2 separate regions of the Homo sapiens genome follow, and region 1 is linked to region 2. Evidence: fine-mapped expression QTL. A gene starts in region 2. The other region holds a variant in brackets. All regions are shown on one strand. Distances are between the middles of the regions.

Region 1 (8,328 bases), 480 kb after region 2:
GAAGCATCTGCTTCTCACTTTGTTCACCTAGAACACTCTAACTCCTCTTTCCAGAGCCCACATCACCTCTTATATGATTCTATGATGTTTTCCTCAAACTCTGAGGTACAGTCCATCCTCCAGGCCACCCCTGGATATGACACATACGGTGGCCTGACCCTTCGACACCACCGGTGGGGCCTCATGCCTGTGCTCCTGGGGCCCAGGCTGGGACAAAACAATGGATGTGATGGCTCACACCTGTAATCCTAGCACTTTGGGAGGCTGAGGAGGGCAGATCATGAGGTCAAGAGATCTAGAACATCCTGGCCAACATGGTGAAACACCGTCTCTACTAAAAATACAAAAACTAGCTGGGCATGGTGGTGCACGCCTGTAGTCCCAGCTACTCGGGAGGGTGAGGCAGGGGAATCACTTGAACCCAGGAGGCGGAGGTTTGCAGTGAGCCAAGATTGTGCCACTGCACTCCAGCCTGGCAACAGAGCGAGACTCTGTTTCAAAAACAACAACAACAACAACAACCAAAAAAAAAAAACAATGGGTACTGCGCCCTGGTGTCTGGAATGAATGAATGAGTGCACTGCTGCCTGGCCAAAGGAAGTCAGCTGCAGGAGCAAGGGAAGGCTGGCTGTGGTCAGAGACCCCTGCTCTGGGCCTGGGCCCAGACACTGGCTACAGAGGAAAATGCCCCCACCCCTCTCCATGCCTTCCAGTGCTCTAGCCCAGGCCTACTACTCTTGGGTAAAGCAACCATCACATGTCAGGAGGCCTCCGCCGCTGGGATGATGTTACAGTCTATTTTGAGGGTCACACTGGAGCATCTGTCAGCCTAGCCAGCCACACCCTCCATGTGTCATCACTAAGAGCCAGGGACACCCACAGGTCCATGAACTCTGCCTGCAGACATTGCTCCTCCCCAGGGACCCTCAGCTTCAGGCCCTCCTTCGCTTCCTAGAAAGACAGACCTGGATGCCCCTTATCTCCTGGCACCACTGGCAGTGCTCTGATGTCTCCTCACCCCACCAGACCCGCTCCCCGAGTTCACAGCTCTGGTGACTCGGCAAAATGCAGTTGAAGCCCATCAGTCTGTGCCAAGCTCTTAGCTCAAACACAGCCCCTCCTACTCCACAGAGCTCTCTTATACTTGAGGAGTGCCCAGAAAGCCTAGCACCCAGAAGTCAAGCTAGTTACCCATCAGACTCATAGGTCTAACAGGTCTCGCCTACTGGGGAACTCCTACTCATTCCTCCCAACTGTTCCCAGGCTCTGCCTCCTCTTGCAGAAAGACTTTCAGTCCACTCTCTACTGAATGGGCCACAGGCTTCCTGAGGACAAAGCTGATCTGTGCTGGCTTTACATCTGTTCTCCCTATACCTAGTATAGGGCCTGGAACATAGTAGGTATATATAAATATTCTGTGAAATCTTGACATGAAACTTTCCTTATTAGACTAGCTTAGTGTGTTCTTCTCCAAAAGATATTGTCAAAACAAAGGACGTTCTGGAGAACAATGACACTAACAACTGGGTTTATAAATACCTTTTACAAAGGAGGTGTACTCAAATCTACAGAAAAGCAAGTTTACAGATTAAATGGAACAGTAAGTTGATCAAGCCCGGCCCAGAGCATGCCACAATTCTCTGGCCCTACACAGCACCATGCACCTTTCAGCTCTGTCCCCTAACATTGCAATCTGGTAGGAATCCAACAGAACATTCCTTCACTCTACCCAGGGAAGAAATGCAACAGCTACAATGGGGAAAGGCAGCAGCAGCATGGACATGTGTGTCTAGGATCAGGCGAGGACATCTGATAAGTCAGGCTACTCCACTGCACACCCTAAGCCCTGCAGCCAGGGTAGGCCACCAAACATCCCAGGGACTCAGGGCTCACTCACAAAATGGGAAGGTAGATGATCACCTGCTCTAGCCACTTGCCAGAGATGCTGTGAGGATCAAACTAGGTAACACAGGAAAGCTAGACAACCAGTTAATGCTTGGGTCATGGACTAAACCAGGATAAAAAACACACCTCCAAAATCCATGGGAGGCTGACAATGGTGGCTCCTGCCTGCAATCCCAGCACTTTGGATCACTTTGAGGCAGGAGGATCACTTGAGGCTAGGAGTTGGAGACCAGCCTAGACAACACAGCAAGATCCCATCTCTATAAAATAGTTAAAAAAAAAATCAGCTGGGCATGGTGGCTCATGACTATAATCCCAGCACTTTGGAAGGCTGAGGTGGAAGAAATACTTGAGCCCAGGAATTCAAGACCAGCCTAGGAAACATTGTGAGACCCCATCTCTACAAAAAATAAGAAAATGAGCCAAGCATGATGGCACACACCTATAGTCCCAGCTACTCAGGAAGCTGAGGTGGGAGGATTGACTGAGCCCAGGAAGTTGAGGTGGCGGTGAGCTGTGATCATGCCATTGCACTCCAGCCTGAGCAACAGAGCGAGACCCTGCCTCAAAAAAAAAAAAAAAAATCTACAAAAAAAGGGAAATGAGCCAGTTGATGTCTGCCTGCCCTGTGTAACTGCCTTTGGCCTCCTCAAAACCCACCTGGCCCATACTAACATGTGGCTGCATCCCAGCCATGGGAAGGCTTTCAGGGATTCCATAAAGAGACCATGAGGAGCTATTCATACTCTTGCCATCTGACAGTGGTCAACTGAAGCAGGATACCACAGGTATACATGACCTGAGACCTTTCTAAAACTGATGTTTCCTTGCTGGGCACCATGGCTCATGCCTGTAATCTTAGCACTTTGGGAGACTGACGCAGGTGAATCACCTGAGGTCAGGAGTTCGAAACCAGCCTGGCCAACATGGCGAAACCCCATCTCTACTAAAAATACAAAAATTAGCCAGGCGTGGTGGCGTATGCCTGTAATCCCAGCTACTCGGGAGGCTGAGGCAGGAGAATCACTTGAACCCAGAAAGTAGAGGTTGCAATGAGCCGAGATTGAGTCAATGCACTCCAGCCTGGATGATAAAGGAGACTGTGTGGCAAATAAATAAATTAATTAATTAACATCTGATGTTTCCAGATCAGCTCAACAGCCATGTTTACCACATGTAAAATGCTGGGAATAGATGCCCACCTTTCTTTAGACTTCCAGTCAACACCTATAGTTCACCAATCTAACATGACACAGCAAGATCGACTAAAACTGAAATGTTAAAACCAGTTGAAAGAATCCAGATCTCCAACATAGCCAGACCTCATCTCTCAAAAAATACAAAAAGAAAAAAAGAATCCAGGT[C/T]TCTAAGTGTAAACACTTCCCTTCTGAAGTTGGTCTCTGCTCTCTACCTAGATAACTAACTCAGCTGTTATCTATGATAAAGACTAGGAGAAAACAATCCATTTTCCTCCCTACAAATTTAAGAAGTGCACTTCAGTTTCTGTGGCAGTATGAGACTCCAGCACCACCATTTTAGTCAACATTATTTTCAAGGTGCTTGTTTTAAGGGGCTATTCTCATTCACACTAGTTCAAGCACACTAAATATATGTGCTTCTATCAGACGGTGGAAGGTGAAAATAGGAGCTTTGAAGCCCTCCCATAAATTTAACTTTCCTGTCTGTAAACGCACTAGATGGGGATAAAAATGAAAGATGGCCGGGTGCAGTAGCTCATGCCTGTAGTCCCAGCAGTTTGAGAGGCCAAGGTGGGAGGATCACTAGAGACCAGCCTGGGCAACATAGCAAGACCTCATCTCTACAAATAATTTAAAAAATTAGGCTGGGTGCGGTGGCCCACACCTGTAATCCCAGCACTTTGGGAGGCCAAGGCAGGCGAATCACCTGAGGTCAGGAGTTTGAGACCAGCCTGACCAACATGGAGAAACCCCATCTCTACTAAAAATACAAAATTAGCCTGGTGTGGTGGCACATGCCTGTAAGCCCAGCTACTCAGGAGGCTGAGGCAGGAGAATTACTTGAACCTGGGAGGCGGAGGTTGTGGTGAGCTGAGATTGCGCCATTGCACTCCAGCCTGGGCAACAGGAGCAAAACTCCGTCTCAAAAAAAAAAAAAAAAAAAAAATTAGCCAGGCGTGGTGGCATGCACCTGTATTCCCAGTTACTCAGGAGGCTGAGGTGGGAGGATAACTCGAGCCCAGAAGGTCGAGGCTGCAGTGAGCTGTGATTGTGATCTTGCCACTGCACTTCAGCGTGGGAGACAGAGCAAGACCCCATCTCATTAAAAAAAAAAAAAAAAAAAAAGAGAGAGAGAGAGAAAGATACAGCAGCTTCCCATGATCAGAATTTCAGAGGCATAGAATTCTGGAGTTCAGGCAGCTTAGATGCTGGCCTGGATCCTCACAGTGCAGATCAGGAGACTGAAGCTCCAACATCTACCCAAGACCACAGAGACCTCTCAGGCAGAGAAGTTACATCACTGAGGAAGTAGGCAAGGCTCTGACTCTGGCAGTGTTGCCCCCAGCCTAGTCCCTTGGCCAAGCATTTTGCATGCACTACAAAGGGGACAGTCCCTAGGAGAAAGAAGTTCTGAATGTTCGAGAACACACCCTCAGCGTTGGCATGGTCACCAGAGGGGTTGGCAAACTTCAGACACCAAACCTAAAGTCTGATGAGGAAAGCCTTTCCAAGGTAGCTGCAGTCATGTTACTTCATAACTTACACACCTGCTTCGTCACAATCACTGGGAAAAAAAGGGAGACTGGGAGAAAGAAAAAAAATTAAGTATCTCCCCTATGATTTCCTGTGTCTGCTTGGATCATCCTAAAATAGGGAGTCTCCCTAATGCTGACTTTTTTTTTTGTTTGGTTTTGGGACAGAGTCTCACTCTATTGCCCAGGCTAGAGTGCAGTGGTGCAATCTCAGCTCACTACAACCTCCACCTCCCATGTTCAAGTGATTTTCATGCCTCAGCCTCCCAAGTAGCTGGGATTACAGGTGCACACCACCACACCCAGCTAATTTTTGAATTTTTTTTTAGAGATGGGGTTTTACCATGCTGGCCAGGCTGGTCTTGAACTCCTGATCTCAAGTGATCCGCCCGCCTCGGTCTTCTGAAGTGATAGGATTACAGGTATGCCAGTTAATTTTTTTGTATTTTTAGTAGAGACAGGGTTTCAGCATGTTTGCCAGGCTAGTCTCCAACTCCTGACCTCAGGTGATCTGCCCATCTTAGCCTCCCAAATTGCTGGGATTACAGGCGTGAGCCACCGTGCCTGGCTCCTAATGCTGACTTTAATGAGGACCTTCCTAAAGTTGATCCAACTAGTAGTGTTCAAGTCCTTGGACTGAAAAACAAGTTTATGAGCAGCAAGGTCACCTGATTCTGATCATGTGTATGCTGTTTACCCTGAGATGACAGGCCGGTGGCCACAGAAGCTTTCATGAATGCTGCAAAGACTCTACTATCTCTTTGAAGGCTACCAGGGCCTCCACATGACTAAATGCCATAAAAAAGAACCTCATGAATACAGCAAGAATGTGAAAGGAAGGAAGTCACAAAAACACCACATGCTCATGAGGGAAACTCCATTCTGGACACTAAATTTTTAAAGTAAACTTGTTACTTGTTTGCCTAACCTTCTAGGTATCAAATTACATCATCACTAAAAATAATCCCTGCTTTACCCCCAACACACCCACTGGCCATCAAGATCTGCTGCTTAGACCAGACCATGCCCACAGTCAGGAAATAATGGCAGCCCAGACCCATGCGGCTCCCCAGCTCACATCAGCAACAAGTGCCAGCCAAAGGACCTGAACTCTGACCACAGGGATCAGCTCCATGATCAGGGAAAGAGGGTGGTCATGAAGGGCTTACCCATCTCTTCCTTTGCTGACAATCTTCACTTCAAAGTAATAAATGCCACAGGCAGCAGGTATGGGGTGGGTGGCACGCACTGAGGCCGCATCTTTGTGATTTTTGCCATGACCTAACAGGAGAGGGCAAGTAAGAAATTTCAGCAGAAGGAAATGCAAATGGAAGCCTCATTTTTCTCTGCAACTCCTCCATGACAACTCCACTCCTCTGTGGCCAGAGGACGCACTTACACAGGCCGAGGAATCATTAGACAACTGAATAAACACTTAAACCTTCCACCTTTGCCTCACCTCCTCCTGAGAACAGCAGTCCTGCCTGAGACACTGCCCATACAAACAAAACAAGGGTAGAGGCAATGTGAGAGATACTCAAGTGCTGCTGGCAGCCTCTCTAGAATCCAGGCAGCCCACCTGGGAGGCCAGGGGAAGAAGGATGAGGCCGACCTGGAAGACACCCCCCAAACTCTAGCACGGAACCCCAGGCTCAGTCTAGGATGCCTGGCAGGTGGGGAAGCCCATGAGTCTCACGCTAATGGTAGGTATGTGACCACCCCTTTCTTCTAAGCAGTGGCGAAAGGTCCCGCTGCCGTTGGCGCCAGCCTAGGATAAGCACGGAGGCCCTGGAGTGGAAGGTCCGGCCCAGCACTGGGTTTGGACACCTGTTGCGGTTCTCTTGACGGCAGGTGTCTCAGGACAGAGAACAGGCAGTCAGCCCTCGGCCTGTTCAGCCTCACCACCCTGGACATCCTGAAAGGGCCAAGCCCTAACTTGGAGCACCTAGGCAGGGAAAGGGAGGTGATAGGGCGGGGGCCTGGCAGCAGAGCCACCCCACGGACGCTCTAGCCTTAATTCCCCCCAGCCTGACGGGCCGATACCTTTGTAGTGGACGCGGAGGTTGCCCTGGGAGAGACCAATGTAGTTGTATTTGTCCTTGGGGCTCCAGGAGCGCGGCAGCGGAGTCTCTTGCTGGTTGACCGCGGGATACAGGCGCTGCAAGCGCCGGCTCAGCTCCTGCTCCCCAGGGGACGGCAGCCCGCCCCCAGCGCCCCCGCCGGAGGAGTCCCCAGGCTGCGGGTTCCCAGCTCCCGGGTCTGCCGTCGCTGCCGCCATCTTGGAGGGAGCTACTATTGTGTCACTGGGGGCGGGGAGGAGCGGGACCAGATCCGCCCCGCTCAGCCAATGGCCCGTGAGCCTCCCTGGGCCGCAGGGAAACCGAGTCCGAGTCCGGCACCCCTCTTTGGACACTGACACGCCTTACCACATTTCGAACTCCATACCCCACAATGCAGAGCTCTCGAGAGGCGGAGCAACTCGGGCTGGTAGAGAATTCTGGGAGATGTAGTATAACCGTCCTCAGCCATAAGCCTGTCCCATCGAGACGTCGGGACACCGAAAACTACCATTCCCGCCGGCAAAGCGGCTCCGGCCTCTCAGCACACTTCCCTCCCCATGGCCTCTGTTCATCCCCCTGCCTCAGTTCTGGTACCTGGGGTCAAATCGGCTGTAGTGGTTGACTCTCAGGGCACCCGCTGCCGGGTCCCAGTCCACCTTTGCTACTTTGTCCTACTCCCAGCCCGCGGGCGCTAGGCTCGGGGGCGTGGCGCATCCCTGACTCCGCCCCCGCCGCGGGGGGGCCTCTGGGGCCTGGTCGCCATGGCGACCGGCTGTACGCTACCACAGCTTCCCAGGCCGCGGGTGCTGATTGCCCGCCTGCCCGTGGGTCATGGCCTGCCAGCAGTCGCGGTACCACAGCTTCTCGTCCGCGTCGAGGTAGGCGCTGGCAGGGATGAGGGCAGAGATGAGGGTTTGAGTACTTCTAGAGAGGGAAATGGCACTTGATCCGGACCTCTGCACCTCCTGCTGGCCTCTGACCATTGATCTAGGGCTCCAGCACCACAGAGTCAATGGTTAGAATCGGGCTGATTTAGCCCAGTGAAGACGTTACGTGCTAGCAAAACGGTAGGCGCACTTTATCATTACTAGTAACAACCAGCTTGTATTGAATGTACTATATGCCAAATGCTTTATATACCACATTTTTAAATATTTTATTTTTGAGACAAGATCTCGTTCTGTCGCCCAGGCTGGAGTGCAGTGGCACTACTACGGCTCACTGCAGCCTCGACCTCCCGGGCTCAAGCGATCCTTCTACCTCAGCCTCCCGAGTAGCTGGGACTACAGGCATGCGCCACTACGCTTGGCTAATTTTTGGGTGTTTCTTTGTTCGTTTGTTTTTTGTAGAGACGAGGTTTCACCACGTTGCCCAGGCTGGTTTCGAACTCCTAGACTCAAGCGACCCTCCCACTTCGACCTCTCAAACTGGGATTACAAGCGTGAACCCCCACACCCGGCCTACGTACCATATTTAATCCTCACAACAACTGTATAAAGTAGTAATATTACCATTGAACAAGTAAAGAAATACTTTAGAAGCCTGGAGAGATCATCCTCTGGGTAGCTTCTGCCTGTACTCAGGTGTATAGCCTCTGGGTACTGCAAAATATGACCAGCTCCATCAGCCTGG
Region 2 (8,328 bases):
CTGAGGCAGGAGATTCACTTGAGCCCAGGAGTTTGAGGCTGCAGTGAGCTGTGATCGTGCCATTGCACTCCAGCCTGGGCGTCAGAGTGAGGCACGTCTCTAAAAAAATAAAAAATAAAAAGGAATGAAGTACTGATACATGATAACAACATGGATGAAATTCGAAACATTATGCCAAGGGAAAGAAGCCAAACAAAAAATCACATATGATTCCATCCACATGCAATGTGTGGACAAGGCAAATTTCTAGAGATAGAAAATAGATTAGTGGTTGCCTAGGGCTGGAGAGGCTATGGGGAGATGGGGTGTGACTACTAATGAGTATGGGATTTCTTTTGGGGATGGTGAAAATGTTCTAAAATTGATTGTGATGATAGTTGCACAACTCTGAACATACTAAAACTCACTGAATTGTACACATTAAAATGTGTGAATTGTATGGTATGTGAATTATATCTCAATAGATCTACAAAAAAAAAAAAAGATGAGGTACTGTCCATTCCATGGAGCGCATGCAGAACTCTCTTGGGATCTTACCTGCAGAGACATTACATTACTGGAGGATGAATGCTATAGATACCTTTTCATATATACAAAGGCAGCAAAGATCACTAACCTTCCTCAGCTCATTGTTAAAAGTTTAAGGTCATCTGTATATCTGTTGGACAAGAGGTTGTTGAAAAAAAAGTTTAAGGTCATCTGTACATCTGTTGGACAAGAGGTTGTTGAAAAAAAAGTTTAAGGTCATCTATTTATAAGTGAATTGTCTTCTTTGTTTCAAGATGACCTAGTTTATCAATACGATGGAAAAGTAGAGAGCCATCAAACATACAAACCATCCATATCAAATTTTAAAATAAAGGGCACTACCCTTGTAAAAATATTTTTTAAAGGGTAGTAAATAGTATATAGAATTTTACCTAAAAAGAACCATAAAACAATATCGAATTCTAATTAAAAATTATGCAGGCTGAAGTGATTGGACTGCAATGTACTGATATCTGCAATTTATTTTGAGATGAATTTAAAAAAGACAGATTGATGGACAGATAGGATTGCTAGATGGACATGTGATAAAACAAATATGAGCAAAATGTTGATTGTAGAATGCAGGTGGTGGATATATGGTGCTCACTGTACAATTCTTTCAATCTTTCTGTGTTTATAAAATTGCATTAAGACGTTCGTGGGGGAAAAACAGTGTTAAAGTAAGAGGTGATTACTTAAGAAAGGAAAAGCTCCCTGCTCCAGAAAGAACCTGCATTTCCCATTCTGACAGCTGAGGAAGGAAAATAAATGCATGCAAGAAAGAATGGGATGGGGTCCATCTCTCCCACAGCAATATTCAGACATAAAGAAGAGCAATTATATATGCCACATTTGAGACTAGAAGAGTTAAAGGGGGTAATAAGAGAAATATGACAAATTGTGAAATGATTGCATAACTGACAGAAGCAGAGCCAGAAAAGTCAATCTAATGAGCTAACCTAGAATTCTAAGTCCCAGCCCTTCTAAAAGCCTTTCTACAAGTTCATGTTCAGGCAAAGGCTGAATGTAACAAATGGAGTGACTAAGGGTCTCACATAGACCAGAAAGCATAAATATGCAAGGAAGGACCCTTGATTCTGCTTTCTGTTCTCCTTAAAGGTGGCTGAGAGCTCAATGGGGGTGCTCAGAGTGTGCAGATGTTGGATGCCAAAGAAAACCTACTTCTCGAAGGTGAGCCCCAGTTCTGGTCTCAGTTCCTCTTTTCTTTCTTTCTTTTTTTTCTTTTTTTCTTTTTTTCTTTTTTTTTTTTTTTGAGACGGAGTCTCGCTCTCTAGCCCAGGCTGGAGTGCAGTGGCACGATTTTGGCTCACTGCAAGCTCCACCTCCCGGGTTTACGCCATTCTCCTGCCTCAGCCTCCAGCCTCCTCAAGTAGCTGGGACTACAGGCGCCCGCCACCACGCCCGGCTTTATTTTATTTTATTTTATTTTATTTTGTTTTATTTTTGTATTTTTAGTAGAGATGGGGTTTCACTGTGTTAGCCAGGATGGTCTCGATCTCCTGACCTCGTGATCCACATGCTTCGGCCTCCCAAAGTGCTGGGATTACAGACGTGAGCCACCACGCCCAGCCCACCCTCTTTTCTTGTTAAGGATAGGGTGTGACAAGAGGGTCCTGGCTCCTTCTTACATACATGTCCCATCCACAGGTGGGCTCTTAAGTGCCTGCTGGAGTGAGGGTAGGGGTTAGGGATGCGGCTGTTCTTTCCCAAAGACTACTCAGGGGCTGGTTAGTGCAGAGCTATCGCAGCCTGGCGACAGCCCTCAGTCACAGGCAAGCTTAGGGGAACCTGTGGTGCTTGAAAGACAAAAGGCTTCTTGCCGGACTGACTTCAGGAAACGGGGTAGCCCTAAAGCAGTCATCCCCACCCCATTACAAAGAGCTTCTCTCTTTCCCACGCTGATCCTTCTCCCCCGAAGAAGCTCCGTCCAAGTAAATTTCTTACCTTTTTTTTTTTTTTTTTTTTGAGACAAGGTCTGGCTCTGTCACTCAGGTCGCCCAGGCTGGAGTGCAGTGGTGCAATCTCGGTTCACTGCAACCTCCACCTCCCGGGTTCAAGCGATTCTCCTGCCTCAGCCTCCCGAGTAGCTGGGACTACAGGCCGTGCCACCACACCCGGCTAATTTTTGTATTTTTAGTAGAGATGGGGTTTCACCATGTTGGCCAGGCTGGTCTTGAACTCTTGACCTCAGGTGATCCGCCCACCTCGGGCTCCCAAAGTGCTGGGATTACAGGCGTGAGACACCGCGCCCAGCCCGTCCAAGTCAATTTCTAGAGCTAGAACTTCCTCATGCTCTAAAGACAGGACCCCAACTCCTCAGAGCCAGGATTCCCAACCTTTCAGATCTGGAGCTCCCCATCATGCCTTAGAGTTCTGTCCCCACGCTCCAATCCTTCAGATTTGGATCTCCCCTTCACACACACCCTCGCCTTGCCCCAAAGTCAGCATCCCCCAGCGCTGAGATATGAAGACCACCCCGTCAAAGGGGCACACGCCCAGCCCTCAGAACCGGAGTCCCCCACATCCTCAGAGCCAGAACACTTCATCCCTCAAGACAGAGCGTTATTCTAACTCCTCAGAGCCAGCCCCCCAAATCCTTCCCGGCTGGGGGCCCCTCGCTCTCTCCCATGCCCCAGAGCCAGGTCTCGAACCACTTAGCCCCAATCCTTGGCCACAGCGGCCCCCATTCGCCGCTTTGGTGCTTTTGGCGCCCCCGCCAGAGCGGGCTCCGTACCATGGTCGCGGCTCCAGCAGCGGGCGGGCGGGCTTGTGACCCGGCCAATAACGGTTCCCGGGGTCGCGGCGGCGCGCGCGCGGGGGGCGGGGCAGTGGGCGGGGCCTGGCGTGCGCCGGGTGGTCTCGCGGGCGGTGGCAGGTGAGCGGCGGGCGGGGATGGCGGAGCAATGGGAGCTGGACGAGGAAGGCATTCGCCGCCTGGGGGCGCTGACGCTGGAGCAGCCGGGTAGGGTCTGGCCGGGAGGGTGTGGACTGGGAACGTAGGGTCAGAAGCTGTGGAAAGAAAACTGAAGTGGAAGGCGGGGAACCTGAGATAGAGGCGAGGGAACCACAGAGAAGCGGTACCTGAGGCTGGGGGGCGGGGGGATAACTTGAGGCAGAAGGTTAGAGGGAGGTGGAGGTGGAGGAACTGAAGTAACGGGAGGGTGTGGGGCAGAGCCCGAGGAATTGAGAGAGAAGAGGGGAGTGTGAAGTAGGGAAGGAGAAACAAGGTTAACAGGGGACCCTGCCGCAGGTGACAGAACTGCGGGGGGCGGTGGCTGACCGCTGTAATCCCAGCACTTTGGGAGGCGGAGGCGGGTGGATCACCTGAGCGTGGCCAACATGGTGAAACCCCGTCTCTACTAAAATACAAAAATTAGCCCGGCGTGGTGGTTCAAGTCTATAATCCCAGCTACTCGGGAGGCTGAGGCAGGAGAATCGCTTGAACCCGGGAGGCGGAGGTTGCAGTTAGCCGAGATCGCACCACTGCACTGCAGCCTGGGCGACAGAGCGAGACTCCATCTCAAAAATAATAATAATAAATAAAATAAATAAATAATAAAATGTCTATTAGACATCCAAGTGTAAGGTACCTAGTAGGCAGTTGGATATATGGGTCTGGACCTCAGAGGAGAGGTCAGGGTTAGAGATGAAAATTTTGGAGACATTAGCAATAGGTGGTATTTAAAGCTACGGGAGTGGATGAACTCAGCTAAGGAGAGAATGTCGATGGAGAAGTGAAAGAAAGCTTAAGACTCAACCTTGGAATATTTCAGTGTTTAGAGGTTGTATAGAGGAAGAATGTGGTATCTTGGAATTTGAGAAGGGGTAGTGTATCGAGCAAGCAATGGCCAACTGTGCCAAATGCTATTGACAGGCTGAGCAACTTAAATGCAGAGTGTCTGTTAGATTTAGCAACATGGAACTTACTGGTGACCTTGACAGAGGGAGTTTTGGGAGGGTGGGGAGGAGGGAAACCAGATTGGAGTGGGATGAAAAAGGGAAATGATATTTGAGGGGAAGAGACAGTGAAAGTAAGAACTTTTGCTGAAAATTTTAGCTGTAAAAGAGACTGCAGAAATAGATGGTAGCTGAAGCGTATGATGTGCAGTCAAGAACAGAACAGGAAGGATATACTAGAGCATGTCGGTAGTCTAATGATTAATTTGGTAGAGGGGGGAAATATGTAATATTTACTCATTTTGACTGTTAAAATAATTCAATTAATTTATTCTGTGGGTAATATAATAATTGTACAGTGAGGGCCAGGCGCGGTGGCTCACGACTGTAATCCCAGCACTCTGGGAGGCCGAGGCGGGCGGATCACGAGTCAGGAGATCGAGACCATCCTGGCTAACACAGTGAAACCCCGTCTCTACTAAAAATACAAAAAAAATTAGCGGAGCATGGTGGCGGGCGCCTGTAGTCCCAGCTACTCGGGAGGCTGAGGCAGGAGAATGGCGTGAACCCAGGAGGCGGAGCTTGCAGTGAGCCGAGATCGCGCCACTGCACTCCAGCCTGGGTGACAGAGTGAGACTCCGTCTCGAAAAAATAAATAAATAAAATAAAAATTGTACAGTGAGAAGAAAGTCTTTACTCCCCCATCCCCGTCTCATAGGCCTAGTTCCCCTTCCTAAAGGCAATTACTGTTACCAGTATCTTGGATAGTTTTCCAGAAATATTCTCTACATATATAAGCATTTATCACTTATTTTATAATTTTATATTATGGCAATTTTCAAATATATACAAGAGTAGAGATAACAGAATAATGAACTCTATTAGCCTACCTCAACAGTTATCATCAATTCATGGCCAAGCTTCTTTCACGTATACCTCACCTATCCTCCACCCACCTCCAACCCCCTACACTGACTATTTTGAAGCAAATTCCAAGTATGTGATTTCCTCCATAAATATTTCAGTAGTATTTTATTTATTTATTGTTTTTATTATTTTTCAGATAGAGTTTTGCTCTGTCACCCAGGCTCTAGGGCAGTGGCGTGATCTCGGCTCACTGTAATCTCCACCTCCGCATTTCAAGCGATTCTTCTGCCTCAGCCTCCCAAGTAGCTGGGACTACAGGCACCCGCCACCACGCCCGGCTAATTTTGTATTTTCAGTAGTGACAGGGTTTTGCCATGTTGGCCAAGCTGGTCTTGAACTCCTGACCTCAAGTGATCCACCCACCTCAGCCTCCCTAAGAGTTGGGATTATAAGTGCAAGCCACAGCACCTGGCCAGTATGTATTTTTAAAAGCTAAGATTACTTTAAAAAAAAGTCACATATGCAACCTAAAAAATTTAACAGTAATTTCTTTTTTTGGTTTTGTTTTGTTTTTGAGATGGAGTCTGGCTCTGTTGCCCAGGCTGGAGTGCAGTGGCATGATCTCAGCTCACTGCAACCTCTGCCTCCAGGGTTCAAGCAATTCTCCTGCCTCAGCTTCCTGAGTAGCTGGGATTTCAGGCATGTGCCACCATGCCTGGCTAATTTTTTTGTATTTTTAGTAGAGACGGGGTTTCACCATGCTAGCCAGGCTAGTCTTGAACTCCTGACCTCAAGTGACTCAGCCTCCTAAAGTGAACAGTGATTTCTTGATATCATGAAATATCTAACTAGTGTTCTTATTTCCCCAGTTGTCCTATAATTTTTTAAAATTAGAATCCATGGCCGGGTGCGTTGGCTCATGCCTGTAATCCCAGCACTTTGGGAGGCCAAGGTGGGTGGATCACTTGAGGCCAGGAGTTCAAGACCAGCCAGGCCAACATGGTGAAACCCCATCTCTATTAAAAATACAAAAATTAGCTGGACATGGTGGCTCACACCTGTAATCCCAACTACTTGGGAGGCTGAGGCAGGAGAATCGCTTGAACCCGGGAGACGGAGGTTGTAGTGAGCTGAGATCGCGTCACTGCACTCCAGCTTGGGTGGCAGAGCAAGTCTCCATCTAAAAAATAAAATAAAATAAGAATCCGTATATGGTCCATATATTGCAATTGGTTGATGTATGTCTTAAGTCTTATTTGATCTGTAGGCTCCCCATTTTTTTTCCCTCGCATTTTCAATTGTTTTTGAAGAAACTGGCTTTGAAAGAGTTTACTATAACCTGAACTTTGCTCATTGCATTCCTAAGATGTTAAACATTTTCCCGTGTTCCCTGTACTTCCTATGAATTGGTAGTTAGATGAGGCTTAATCAGATTCAGGTTGGATTTTTTTTTTTTCACAAGACGATTTCATAGGTAATGGTGTATGTTTATGTTAGGAAGTATATGGTGCCTAGTGTTCTTTCTTTTCGTGATATCAGCCACTGAATATGATTACCTAAGTTAATTCATTAGGGATTGCAAAATGGTAATTGTCTATTTCTTTCATTTTTCTTCATTAACTGTAATACTTCTATAAAGAGAAATTTCCTCACATCAACTGTTTGCTTATCCTGAGGTACAGTTTGTATAGGAAAGGCAGCATAAAAGCTTGATTTGTTTTCACCTTATATGCCAGCTTTCAGAATGATGAGTTATTTTCTTAGCATTCTCCAAAGGTGACCAGTGAGGACTGTTTTGCTTTCTCAGTATCATTATAAACTCATCGATTTAAATATATGTCTTAGGGCTGGGCATGGTCGTTCACGCCTGTAATCCCAGCATTTTGGGAGGCCAAGGAGGATGGATCACCTGAGGTCAGGAGTTCAAGACCAGTCTGTCCAACATGGTGAAACCTCATCTGTACTAAAAATACAAAAAAAATTAGCCCGGCATGGTGGCAGGTGCCTATAATCCCAGCTACTCAGGAGGCTGAGGCAGGAGAATCACTTGAGCCTGGGAAGCAGAGGTTGCAGTGAACTGAGATCGCACCACTGCACTTCAGCCTGGACGAAAGACTGAGACTCAGTCTAAATAAATAAATAAATAAATAAATGTCTTAGTCCCTTTTCTCTTGTCATAACAGAATACCATAGACTAGGTAATTTATAAAGAACAGAAGTTGATTTGGCTCATGGTTCTGGAGGCTGAGAAGTCCAAGAGCATGGTGCCAACATCTGGTGAGGGTCATTCCATGGTGGAAGGGCAGAAGGTGCATGTGTGAGATGTGAGAGAGAAAGAGAGAGAGAGAGAGAGAGAGAGAGAGAGAGAGAGAGAGAGAGAAGACTGAACTAATTCCTTTATTAGGATAGCTAACTCCCGTGATAACTAACTCCATGATAACAGCATGAAGCCACCGTTGACCTAATCACCTCTTAGAGGCCCCACCTCGCAGTGCTGTTACATTGGCAATTACGTTTCAACATGAAAGCTGGGCATGGCGGCTTACACACTTTGGAAGGCCAGGGAGGAGGATGAGGCCAGGTATTTGAGACCAGCCTGGGCAACACAGCAAGATCCTGTCTCTACAAAAAATTTAAAAATTAACTGGGTGTTGGTGGTGTGTACCTGTAGTCCCAGCTACTCAGGAGGCTGAAGTGGAAGGATCCTCTGACCCCAGGAGTTTTAGGCTGCAGTGCACTATGATAGTGCTACTGCCCTCCAGCCTAGTTGACAGAGCAAGGCCCTATCTCTGAATAAATTAATACATTTCATCATGAGTTTTGGAGGGGACGTTCAAACCATAGCAATATATTTCAATGTAAGTTTTAATCCATTATAGTTCTTATCATAATTGATGTTCAGTTTATCCTAACTTTAGTTAATAGGTGATCTTTCAAGTTGACTCCTGAGGTCTTTTTAAAAAAGTTTTATGGCCAGGTGTAGTGGCTCACGCCTGTAATCCCAGCACTTTGGGA

What was found.
Region 1: its variant is fine-mapped to the expression of LRRC36 in pancreas (GTEx, PIP above 0.99).

The regions. Positions count from the first base shown.
Region 1 is chr16:67,799,623-67,807,950 of GRCh38, forward strand. It overlaps RANBP10 (RAN binding protein 10), which reads right to left and starts at 6,938. Exons shown (of 14, transcript NM_020850.3): 1 at 6,680-6,938; 2 at 5,806-5,917. The coding sequence starts at 6,914. It overlaps TSNAXIP1 (translin associated factor X interacting protein 1), which reads left to right and starts at 7,267. Exons shown (of 16, transcript NM_001288990.3): 1 at 7,267-7,574. The coding sequence starts at 7,528. RefSeq lists enhancers at 2,527-2,606, 6,061-6,681, 6,682-7,301, 7,007-7,236 and silencers at 6,657-6,876, 7,377-7,496. The variant C/T (reference allele first, on the strand shown) is at 3,270.
Region 2 is chr16:67,323,422-67,331,749 of GRCh38, forward strand. It overlaps LRRC36 (leucine rich repeat containing 36), which reads left to right and starts at 3,394. Exons shown (of 14, transcript NM_018296.6): 1 at 3,394-3,511. The coding sequence starts at 3,442. KCTD19 (potassium channel tetramerization domain containing 19) reads right to left here and starts at 3,320. Exons shown (of 16, transcript NM_001100915.3): 1 at 3,284-3,320. The coding sequence starts at 3,286. RefSeq lists an enhancer at 1,452-1,531 and a silencer at 3,287-3,436.